2 separate regions of the Homo sapiens genome follow, and region 1 is linked to region 2. The links come from fine-mapping of genetic effects on gene expression. Tissue or cell type: lung. Region 2 holds a variant in brackets; the other region holds the start of a gene. All regions are shown on one strand. Distances are between the middles of the regions.

Region 1 (5,395 bases), 92 kb before region 2:
TCTCTGGGAATACAGGTGCTAGCCCTCCAGGAGGGGACTGGCACAGCTCTCTGCCTAATTAGATTTACTCTTGTGCCCAGATGTCCGTGACACTTAGAATTTGTTCTTCCTACTTAGACCTCGCTATTCACCTTAGGGACAATAGGTATTCAAAAGGACTACCATTGGGCACTCGCTTCTGACAATCGGCTTCTCAGAGATGGACTGAAATAGGAGTATATTAGTTGTCACATAAAGTGTGATGTCAGAGCCATCTCAAAGCAAATGATGTGAATGTGATATCTGTTTGTCCTGTCATTTAAAACTCACATTACTTCAGCTCACAGGTGTTTTTTTTTCTTTTTTTAAAGGAATAATAGACTGTTAGAGCTACAGGGGACATAGATAGGATCTGATGTGACCTTTTCATTTTATACACGGGAAAACTAATTCCAGGAGAATGATGTGGCTTGCCTAAAGGCATATTATATGTCAGCTGTAGATCTGGGAGTCTAAATGGTCTCGTAACTGTTTACTACACAAGCTATAATACCTCCCTTAAGTGGGTGTAAAATTGTCATTGTGAAGAACTTTTCTCTTCATGAATTTGGGTGCAGAATATACCAGAGAGGAATTATATAGACTAATTCCTACCCTTATTAAAAATAGTTTCTCTCAGCTAATTTAGACACCCCCCTTCTGAAAAAGAAATCAGTTTACCACCATAAACATAGGAAAAGAACCTCTAATTATATATGTTGCAAAATAAGTGATATCTTTTTCTTAATTTCAGATAAGCTCTTATTCACATTTTTTCACTCTATCTCATGTGCTGTTTACTTCCTTATCTCTCAATCTGCACCTGCTCAAAAGAAGCTCAAGTTATCTCAGTCATGTCATTAATATATATGATTATATATTATATATAACTATATATTATATATATGACTATATATTATATATGTAACTATACATATAATATATATAGTTTTATTTTGTTTTGTTTCAACCTCATTTTAATGAAAGGGTCGGAGCAACCACAGTAAATGTCTGATTTTAAAACTGAATACCTATCTTGGACTACAAAATAGGCAGGGATAGTTTGTGTTATACTCAGACCAAGTTGGTGTACAGGAAAATCTCAATGCAGGCAGTGGCCAGGGGCTGGAAAGTGACAACAGGATGTGGAGAAGTCTCTCAAAGTGTGGCCACCTCACCCCAGATCACCTGATGTGCTTATTTAAAATGAGGCTCCACCTCAGACCTTCTGAATCCCATTTTCCTGGGGGTGAGGTATGCATATTGCTCCCAAAGTAAGTTTTCTGCATGATTCTTAGGAACATTTAGATACGAGAACCCCAAGAATAGAGGGAAGAAAAATAGAAGACGAGCTAAAGGAAATGATAAATAGTTGTGGTTACCATTCATCTCATTTGAGGCAAGTCCTTTTAAGTCTCAATTTCCCATCTGAGCTCATTCTATTTTCCCTCTGTTCCCTTCCATTTCTGAATTTCCCCAATTCTAAGTTTTTCTCTGAACTTTGAGCCTGTGAAAAAAGAAGGGATGCTGCCTCAGGCCACCCCAGCCTAGATACTCACTCTGAGTGCCATGAGGTAGTAGAGGACACTGATGACAGTCATGGGGAGGAGGTAGAATAGGAAGGAGGTGACCTGGATGATGAAATTGTAGATCCACATGGGCTTGATGACCGTACAGGTGGCCGAACCTGGGACCAGGGACCCATTGGGGAAGTAGTGGAACTTGATGCCATGGATGCTGGTGTTGGGCAGGGAGAAGAGCACGGAGAAGCCCCAGACGATGCCGAGGATCCTGAGGGCCCGGCGCCGGGTGCTCTGCAGTTTGGCGCGGAACGGGTGTAGGATGGCCACGTAGCGCTCCACGCTGACGGTGGTGATGCTGAGGATGGAGGCGAAGCACACGGTCTCAAAGAGGGCCGTCTTGAAGTAGCAGCCCACGGGCCCGAACAAGAAAGGGTAGTTGCGCCACATCTCATAGACCTCCAGGGGCATTCCAAGGAGCAGGACCAGGAGGTCAGAGACCGCCAGGCTGAAGAGGTAGTAGTTGGTGGGCGTCTTCATAGCCTGGTGCTGCAGAATCACCAGGCACACCAGGACATTGCCAATGACCCCCACCACAAAAATTGGCACATACACCACAGACACGGGGAGGAAGAAGTGGCTGCGCCGAGGTCCGCAGAGGAAGGCCAGATACTCCTCGGTGCTGTTCAGGTGTTTCTGGAATGGATCTTCTAGTTTCTGCTGGTAGATCCAGGAAGCATTCTGAAGTTTTTCCATCCCTGACATTAAAATCCAAGGCCTGAGCCTCCCCTGGTACGAGGCTCTGTTTCAAGCTGAGCCAGGAAAAAAAAAAAAAAAAGAAAAAAGGAAAACAAAAAAGAGAAAGCAGTCACGAAAGTCACAGGCTTCGTAAGGAAGGCTGGGAGAGAGTGAGTGTTTCACCCTCCAGGTTAGGCTGCCTGGACCGCCGATCCCTTTTGAAGAGCCCCGGAGACACAAGCCCCTCCCCTTGACAGGCTGAGGGCCAATGAGAGTGTGTTAGGCTGCACTGGAGGAGAGGGGTGCTGGCTTCGAGTCAGGAAGCAGGGGAGGAGGCAGAGACCTCTCCCTGAATGGGAAGGAGCTGGGAAGGCAGAGCTGACACAAAAGAAGCCACTCGAACTTCATGGATGGGCACTTTGAGCAATGCAGGTTGCAAAGTTGTGGGAATCTGGGTAGACATAGAAATTAAAGTTGCAGGGCCATGGGCAAAAGAATACCAATCTCCACTAACCCTTGTCAGCCGTACAGCATGATGAAAATAGGAGATCAATAGATTTCTCAAGTTATCTTGTTCCACTGGAAATTCAGGGTTCTCTGGGGATTAATGTGATAACATGATTAATGTGACTTTTTGGTTTTAACTGCATCAACGATAGAATCCGAAGCCTGAAAGGGCGCATGCACAGTGCCTAGCCCTGACTGCTAACTGACTCTTCAGTCTCAGCAGAGCTTTGCTGTAAGCAAAAGGCAAATGGACTTCAGAATTAGGAACACTCATAGAAATTTAGGAAAGTTGGCACAGTTACCCAAACTCTTAGAGGCTTATTTCCTTATCTGCATCATTAATTCGATTGCGTTCCACAATAACTTCTTGAGGATTCACTATTTGCCAGGGAATGTTCTAAGCTTTGTAGAAACACTAGTGTACAAGCAAGACAAGGTCTCTGCCCTAGTGGAGCTTTTCTTGCAGTAGGGAATTCTGAAAACACACAAGCAAATGAATAAATTAATAATATAATTTCAGATAGTAATTGATAAATAATTATTTATCAAGGATGGTGAAAGAAAACTTATCTCAGGAGATGTCACTTTAGCTGAGGTCTGAATGATGAAGTCAGTCATGAAAGAGCTAAGGGAAGTGTATTACTCAGCAAAAGTAATAGCAAGTGCAAAGGTCCTGAGGCAGAAACAAGCTGGATAGGTTTTAAAAATATCAGGAAGACCAGAATAACTGGAATTTAATAAGTGGTCAGCAAAGTATGAATGCTTAGATTGAAGTGGCTGGCAGGTACAGGTTCATGTAAACTCTTATAGGCCATGGAAGAGAGTTTAGCTCTGATTCAAATGGCAGGGAGAAGTCTTTAAAAGATTTTGCACTGGAGAATTAACGAGGGAGAAATTTTAACAGAAGGTAGGTAAGAGGCTAGTAAGACATAGTAGTGGCTTGGATTCTATGAGCAGTGGAGTTGAGAGATTTCTTTGGATTTAGGAATATTTTTGCAGGAGATAATACCTTTTATGGTCATTGAGAAGACTAAATTAAATTATATATAACGAAGCAACTTATACTTAAGAGATGCTCACTAAATGTTAATTTTTTCCCTTTATTTGTTAAATCAGATTATGACGTTAAAAATTAGAGAGGGAAAGTGACTTGTCCAAGAATAAGTCATCTCTCAAGTTAAGATAGTTTACGCTGCTGTAACAAATGATTGACATATCTTGGTGGTTTTAAACAATACAGATTTATTTCTCTTGTACTTCAAATGTATTGAGGGTCTGTCTCATGCTATGCTCACTCATAAACCTAGGCTGATGCAGTGGTCACTCTCTGGAATTTTGATTATCATTGTGATAGAGGAAAAGAGAGCTCTGGATGGTCTTAAGTAGGTAATTATAGGCTCTAGCCCAAAAGTAAGTAACTCATTGCCAGTTTTTCTCACAGCTCATTGACCAAGGTTAATCATATGTACCCATTCGACTACAGCAGGGTCAGGAAGTGCTGTCTTAGCATGTGCACAGAAGATGGAAAAGTAGGAAAAATTGATCAATAACATTAATAATAATTACAGACATGTAATAGGTATTGCAGAGCCAGAATTAGGGCCCTCTAGTTAAAGGCAAGTTTTGATGTTAAAATCACTATTTACAAACTTTAACGTATTTTTCTAATGAAATAGGAAAAGTTTAATGAGAATATCTCATTTAGATGTAAGGATCGTTATAAGGGTGCACAGTGGCAGACTATAAACTTAGCGCTGAGGAAGATGGAAAATATTTCTTTCTTTAACAAAAATATTTTTCCATAAGTTACTGGGGTACAGGTGGTATTTGGTTACACAAGTAAGTTCTTTAGTAGAGATTTGTGAGAACCTGGTGCACCCATCACCCAAGCAGTATACACTGCACCATATTTGTTGTCTTTTATCCCTCACCTGCCTCCCTCTCTTCCCCTAAAGTCCCCAAAGTCCATTGTATCATTCTTATGCGTTTGCATCTTCACACCTTAGCTCCCACATATCAGTGAGAACATATGATGTTTGGTTGTCCATTCCTGAGTTACTCCACTTAGAATAATAGTCTTTAATCTCACCCAGGTCATTGCAAATGCTGTTAATTCATTCCTTTTTATGGCTGTGTAGTATTCATATATATGTATGGAAATATATTTATATATTATATATCCATATATGGATATATATTTATATATTATATTTATATTATATTATATTATATATTATATTATATTGTATATTATATATATTATATATAATATATATAAGATATATTATATATAATATTATATATAATATATATTATATAGTATTTATATATGATATATCCATATATATGGATATATAGGATATCCATATATGATATATCCATATATATCAATATATATCAGAGTTTCTTTATCCACTCACTGATTGATGGGCATTTAGGTTGGTTCCACAATTTTACTGTTGCGAATTGTGCTGCTATAAACAGGCATGTGCAAGTATTTTTTTCGAATAATGACTTCTTTTCCTCAGACACCCAGTAGTGGGATTGCTGGATCAAATGGTAGATCTACTTTTAGTTCTTTAAGGAATCTCCACACTATTTTCCATAGTGGC
Region 2 (5,395 bases):
ATATACAATGGTGTTCTCTTAAGATTATAATACCATATTTGTACTATATCTTTGTTTAGATATGTTAAGATACACAAATACTTATTGTGGTACATTTGCCCACAGTATTTCATACAGTAACATGCTGTACAGTTTATAGCCTAGGAGAAATAGGCTATACCATGTAGACTAAGTGTGCAGGAGGTGAAACTATCTAGGTTTGTGTAAGTACACACTATGATGTTCACACAATGATGAAATCACCTAAGTATGCATTTCTCAGAACATATCCCTGTTGTTAAGCCATGTGTGATTATGTACGGGAGGATGTCTGTAGATTATATGCAAATACTATACCATTTTATGAGATACTTGAGCATTCATGAATTTGTTTAAGGTCTCCCTGTGTCTTTTTTCTTTCTTTCTTTAAGTTGATCAAATATTTTTTAGTGGACAATTTTATTGGCTTTTTAACTATACATCTTTATATTTTTGGTGGTTACCCTAGAGATTATAATATGCATTTTAACCTATTAGGTCTACTTAGGGTTAGTACTTTACCAATTAATGTAAAATACTAGAAATGTGCAACATCATAGTTCCATTTAACTATCCGTCCTTGAAGCTATTGATATTTATATTATACCTATTATTTACAGCTCTACTTATAGTGTTAAACTATTACAATTTTTAAAGTAGTTGTGTCTTTTAAATAAGGAAAAACAGAGACTCTTATTATTTACCCATGCATATCACTTTTGGTATTCTATACTAGTTTCTGGAGTCCTGAGTTTCAATCTGTTATCATTTTCCTTAATTTGAATAATGTTCTATAGTAGTTCTTGAATTTGAATAATGTTCTATAGTAGTTCTTGAAATCTGCTGGCAATAAATTCATGCAGTTTCTACTTCTCTGAAAATATCTTCATTTTACCCTTATCTTGAAGCTTATTTTCATTGGACACAGGTTTCTTTTGTCTTCTAGCCTCCTTTGTTTTTGATAAGAAATTAGCCATCATTCATATTGCTGGTAGTATGTCCTTTATCTTTTTTCACTGGCTGCTTTAACAATAGTCAGTTTATCTTTGGTTTTCAGAAGTTAGACTATGATATCCCTAGGTATGATTTTCTTTGTGATTATTCTGACTGGGATTTTCTCAGCTCATTGGGTCTGCTTGTTTGTTTTTCTTCCCCCAAGTTTGGGGACTATTTGGCTGCTTTTTTTCTTTTTCAATTTTTTCCCACCTTTTTTTATCTCTTCCTTACTCTGAGACTTCCATTCCACACACATGCACATACACTCTCTGAAGTGAACTCAATATTGTATTGTCTTCATAATAAAACAAAAGATGAAGTTTAGAACTGGATCATTTGGCTTTTTCTCTCATCTCTCCCTAATTTAAAATTCTTGCATTTCTTAATAGTCAGCATTCTCTTAGATCTGCATTTGGGCTCAACACATTTAAGCCTCATCACAATCTTCTTTGTAGTTTTACAGAGACTTTTCCAGAAAATCTGCTTGGTCTGCCCACCATAGCCTGCTCTGCTTCCTGTCAGAATGAAGCTAGGCATACCAAATTCCTTGATCTCCTTGTATTGTGTGTCTTCACGGTGTTGATGCTTGTCACATTTCTTTTAGGAATGTTCTCATGTTTTCTCAAGTACTACAGCCTGGGAGCTGTTGCATACATTTTAGAACACTTATTATTATCCCATAAGCCTCTGAGCTTCTGATTTATTTTCAGTCTTTATTCTCTCTGTTCTCCAGATTGGATAATTTCTACTAAGATCCAATCTACCTTCAGATACTAATCTACAGAAGATAATCTCTCTCTACATTCACTGATCTTTTTTTCCCCTTGTCTCCAGTACTCTTGTAACGCCTTTTCAAATAAATTTTCATGATATTTTACTCTTTGGCTGTGGAATTTTCATTTTTTTCTTTTGTTTAGCTTTCATTTTTCTGCCTAGTTTCCCTGCCTTCTTTATTCATTATGACATATTTGTCTTTACTTTTTGAAACATCGATTTAATATACCTTTTGAGTCCTTGTTTGCAAATTCCAACATCTTGAACATTTCAAGTTCAGTACCTATTGACTGCTTTTTCTCTTGACTGTGGATTACATGTTCTTTTGTGAGTTTACTAGTTTATTCTATACTACATGTTCTAAAGGAAACATGGTAGAGACTGTGATTCAGTTTTCTTCTAAAGGATGTTTGTTTTTTTTCTGATAGGCAGTCCACCTAAACACCAATTGTCTCTCTTGAAGTGGATGAAATCTGAGATCTCTGCTCAGTTCCTCCAGCCTCACAGATAATGTTTTACAGTCTGAAACTTGGAGTCCCCTGAATTTGTATTTACAGTTTAGCCAAGGATTTGACAGGTATTCAGATGTAGATTTAGGGGCTTCCTCCTTTTCTAAATTTTCCCCTTCACTTTCTAGCTATTTTGGCAGCTCTAAACTCTATGGCCTTACTTCCATTCCTATGCCTTTGACTTTCTTCCTGAATTCTTTCCATTCATTTTCCTGCAGATT[G/A]GGTAATGTCCACAGGTGCAAAGCTTACTACACCTGAATCTTATCCAGGGCAGTGCCCTTCCTTCAAAGGCCAACTTTCAATTTCATCTTGCTTTCAATGTTTCTTCAGGCCTTCAAAAAAACAGTTGTTTTTGTTGTATTTTCTGTTTTGTCTAGTGTTTATAAATCTTGTCTGTGAATGAATAAATTTGATAAAAGCTTCACTGCCATTACAGGAAGTAGATCATGGAAAAGTAGATTTTTCTAAGTGGAAAGATCAATGCTGTTAAGTCCAGATACAATATGAACCACATACGTAACTTGAAATTTACTAGTAGCCACATTAAAAAACAGTGAAAATACATAGAAAAAAATACGTTCTATTTAATTGAACATACCCAAATGTTACTGTTTCAACAAGTAATCATCGTAACATGAAGATATTTTCCATTGTTCTTAATATTTAATCTTTGAAATTTTGTGTATACATTTCACTTTTGGCAAAGCTCAATTCAGACACTAAATTTTTAATAGTTAAAGAGAAATGTACAATAATGTAGTTATGTTTAATTGAAAAATATTTTATATTGCTTCAGTTTTAAAACTTAAAATTGACTCAGTTAAAATATAAAAACTTAATTCCTCAGTTTTGGTAGCCACTTGTGAAGTAACCAGTAGCCATATGTGACTAATGGCTACCATACTGAGCAGGACAGGTCTAGATAATAAGAAAGGATTTCTATATTTTCACCCAGTGACATGATCTTAATATAAAGTGCAAGTATAATTTTATACAAATTAAAAGTAATTTATATATAAACACTTCCATTTGGAAAAAGAAAACTGTTTTTCAATATTTGCAAAGATGTGAAAAAGAATCCTAAACTTGCAAAAAAGATTTTTCTAATAGCAAAGCCAAATTGGTTTTCATAATTATACATCATTATGTGCAGAATTTGTCAACAAATTACTGTTTTTAATGGAACACATTGTTCATTCTTCTATGCACTTGTCCTTTTGGGATTCATATTTAATAACATCCTGGCTATAAAAGCTCACTAGTTTGCAAGTGTCCCTTTTTGTTGACTAATTATAATGATGATGTTGATTATTGAAAAAGTGGTCTTTTGGTATTATAGTCATAATTGTCTTGATAGAAGTGTGTCTCAATTGGCTTATGTAAAATTCCAGCTCTGTGAAATAGCACAATTCTCATAAATGATGATTGACTGGGTAGAAAATGTATCTATAAACTTAGAGCTTCCTTAGCACTCAATTTGGGATGGTAGTGCAGTGAGAGCCTATGTTATAATTCTAATGAGACTTCAAGTTACTTATAAGTTTTACTACCGTATCTGATTGACACTACTTGTGCTAAATTCCATCAGTGTCTAAACAAATGAAGAATATACATAACACTCAAAAATCAAAATCTAAAAATTACAGGATCATAAGGCAGGAAGCTTTGAATATGACAAAGCATAGTGATATCAATTTGCACCATATAGTGGGGCCCAAGTGCCATGCATATATAGTACATATGGTAAATGACATAAAGGCAGATGTAGAGGAAAAATGGATCTAAGAACAGTAATACTGTCTCTCTTCTTGATCTACTGGACCAAACAGGTATCAGGTAATTAAAGAAGAGAGAAATTTTCATTGTTCAGGGCAACTCAGTAGACCTTTGGGGCATGTGGTGTCAGATATTTCAAAGTTTCTTGAGCACTTACTATGTATCATGTAAGGGCGACATTCTTGGAATACTATCGTAGTTCCTACCCTCAAATAGATAAGAATCCAGTGGGCAAATTGCCAGGCAAAGTACTAAGAGTTTTACATTCATGACCTTATTTAATTCACTTAAAGACAAACAAAAATAAGATGGCCATTCTTCAGGGAAGAAAGTTGAGGCCTGAAATATTACTTCTTTAGGGTTACCTAAAATGCGTGTAGCAGGACTTGGATTTAAACACAGGTTTGACTCACTCCAGATGCCACACCATAGTCTTAGCCATCATTCATAGTACCTAAGAGAGGTCATCTCTGAACTGGCATTTCTTGGTTCTATATGAACAACCCCTGCCTACACACCAGGATATAATTCTTAGGAAATTTAAAAGCCTGGATATCCGTATTTTTGGCTCTGTTGCTCTAATGAGAAGAGAGATTATTTCTATCTGTTCACAAAACTTATTTCTGTCAGATGGCAATGTTGTACATTCTAGGTTCACAAGGATATTGTCCTAGATCTTATACCCTGGGGCTTCAGTAGCTTTTGAACTCGAAGGTGTGATCCAGGCTTTCAAGAGTGGGTTATCCTACTCCTTTGAATTTAAACAATAGGATCTGAACCTGGAAGCGTCCCTACATGATCTTTCCCAACCCTATTGTATTTCAGGCTTGGATAACAATTCTAAAGAGGTAGAAACTTGTTCAAGATCCGGGAGTCAGTGTCAGCCATTAGACTCAAACTTGCCTCTCAACTCCCAGGTCTTAGTATTTCCTCTGTATCAGACACCTTTTGTCTTTCAGAACCCCTTGCATACTCCAAAGTTTGGACCAAATATTGTTGTAGGACTTTCTCCTTAGTTCAGCTAAAGGCTGGGTTCTTGTCACACAGCCATGAAAGATTAGGCTTGCAGACACTTGGAAGGGTGAGAAGGGCAGCGTTTATTGGATGAAAAGGTATAAAAGAAAACAGGGACTCTCAGCAAAGCAAGTCCTGCTAGTAGGCTTCCTGCCTCACAGTTTGAATTCCAGGTTACCACCCTGGAACAGGAGAGGCCAGGCTCCTATCGCCTGCAAAGGGCGCGAATTTCCATGGCTCCACTGCGTTCTCCCAGTGTGCAGGCTGATCGGAGTTTCTCCGGGCACCCCTTTATACTTGGCTGTCTC

Evidence for each region. PIP is the estimated chance that this variant, and not a neighbour inherited with it, causes the effect.
Region 1: it holds the start of NMUR2, and the variant in region 2 is the best candidate, but not a certain one, in a credible set for the expression of NMUR2 in lung (TOPMed, PIP 0.55).

The regions. Positions count from the first base shown.
Region 1 is chr5:152,402,811-152,408,205 of GRCh38, forward strand. NMUR2 (neuromedin U receptor 2) reads right to left here and starts at 2,469. Exons shown (of 4, transcript NM_020167.5): 1 at 1,578-2,469. The coding sequence starts at 2,303.
Region 2 is chr5:152,494,383-152,499,777 of GRCh38, forward strand. It overlaps the pseudogene RPL36AP20. Among named protein-coding and RNA genes, the nearest start is that of NMUR2, 92 kb to the left of the region's middle. The variant G/A (reference allele first, on the strand shown) is at 2,519.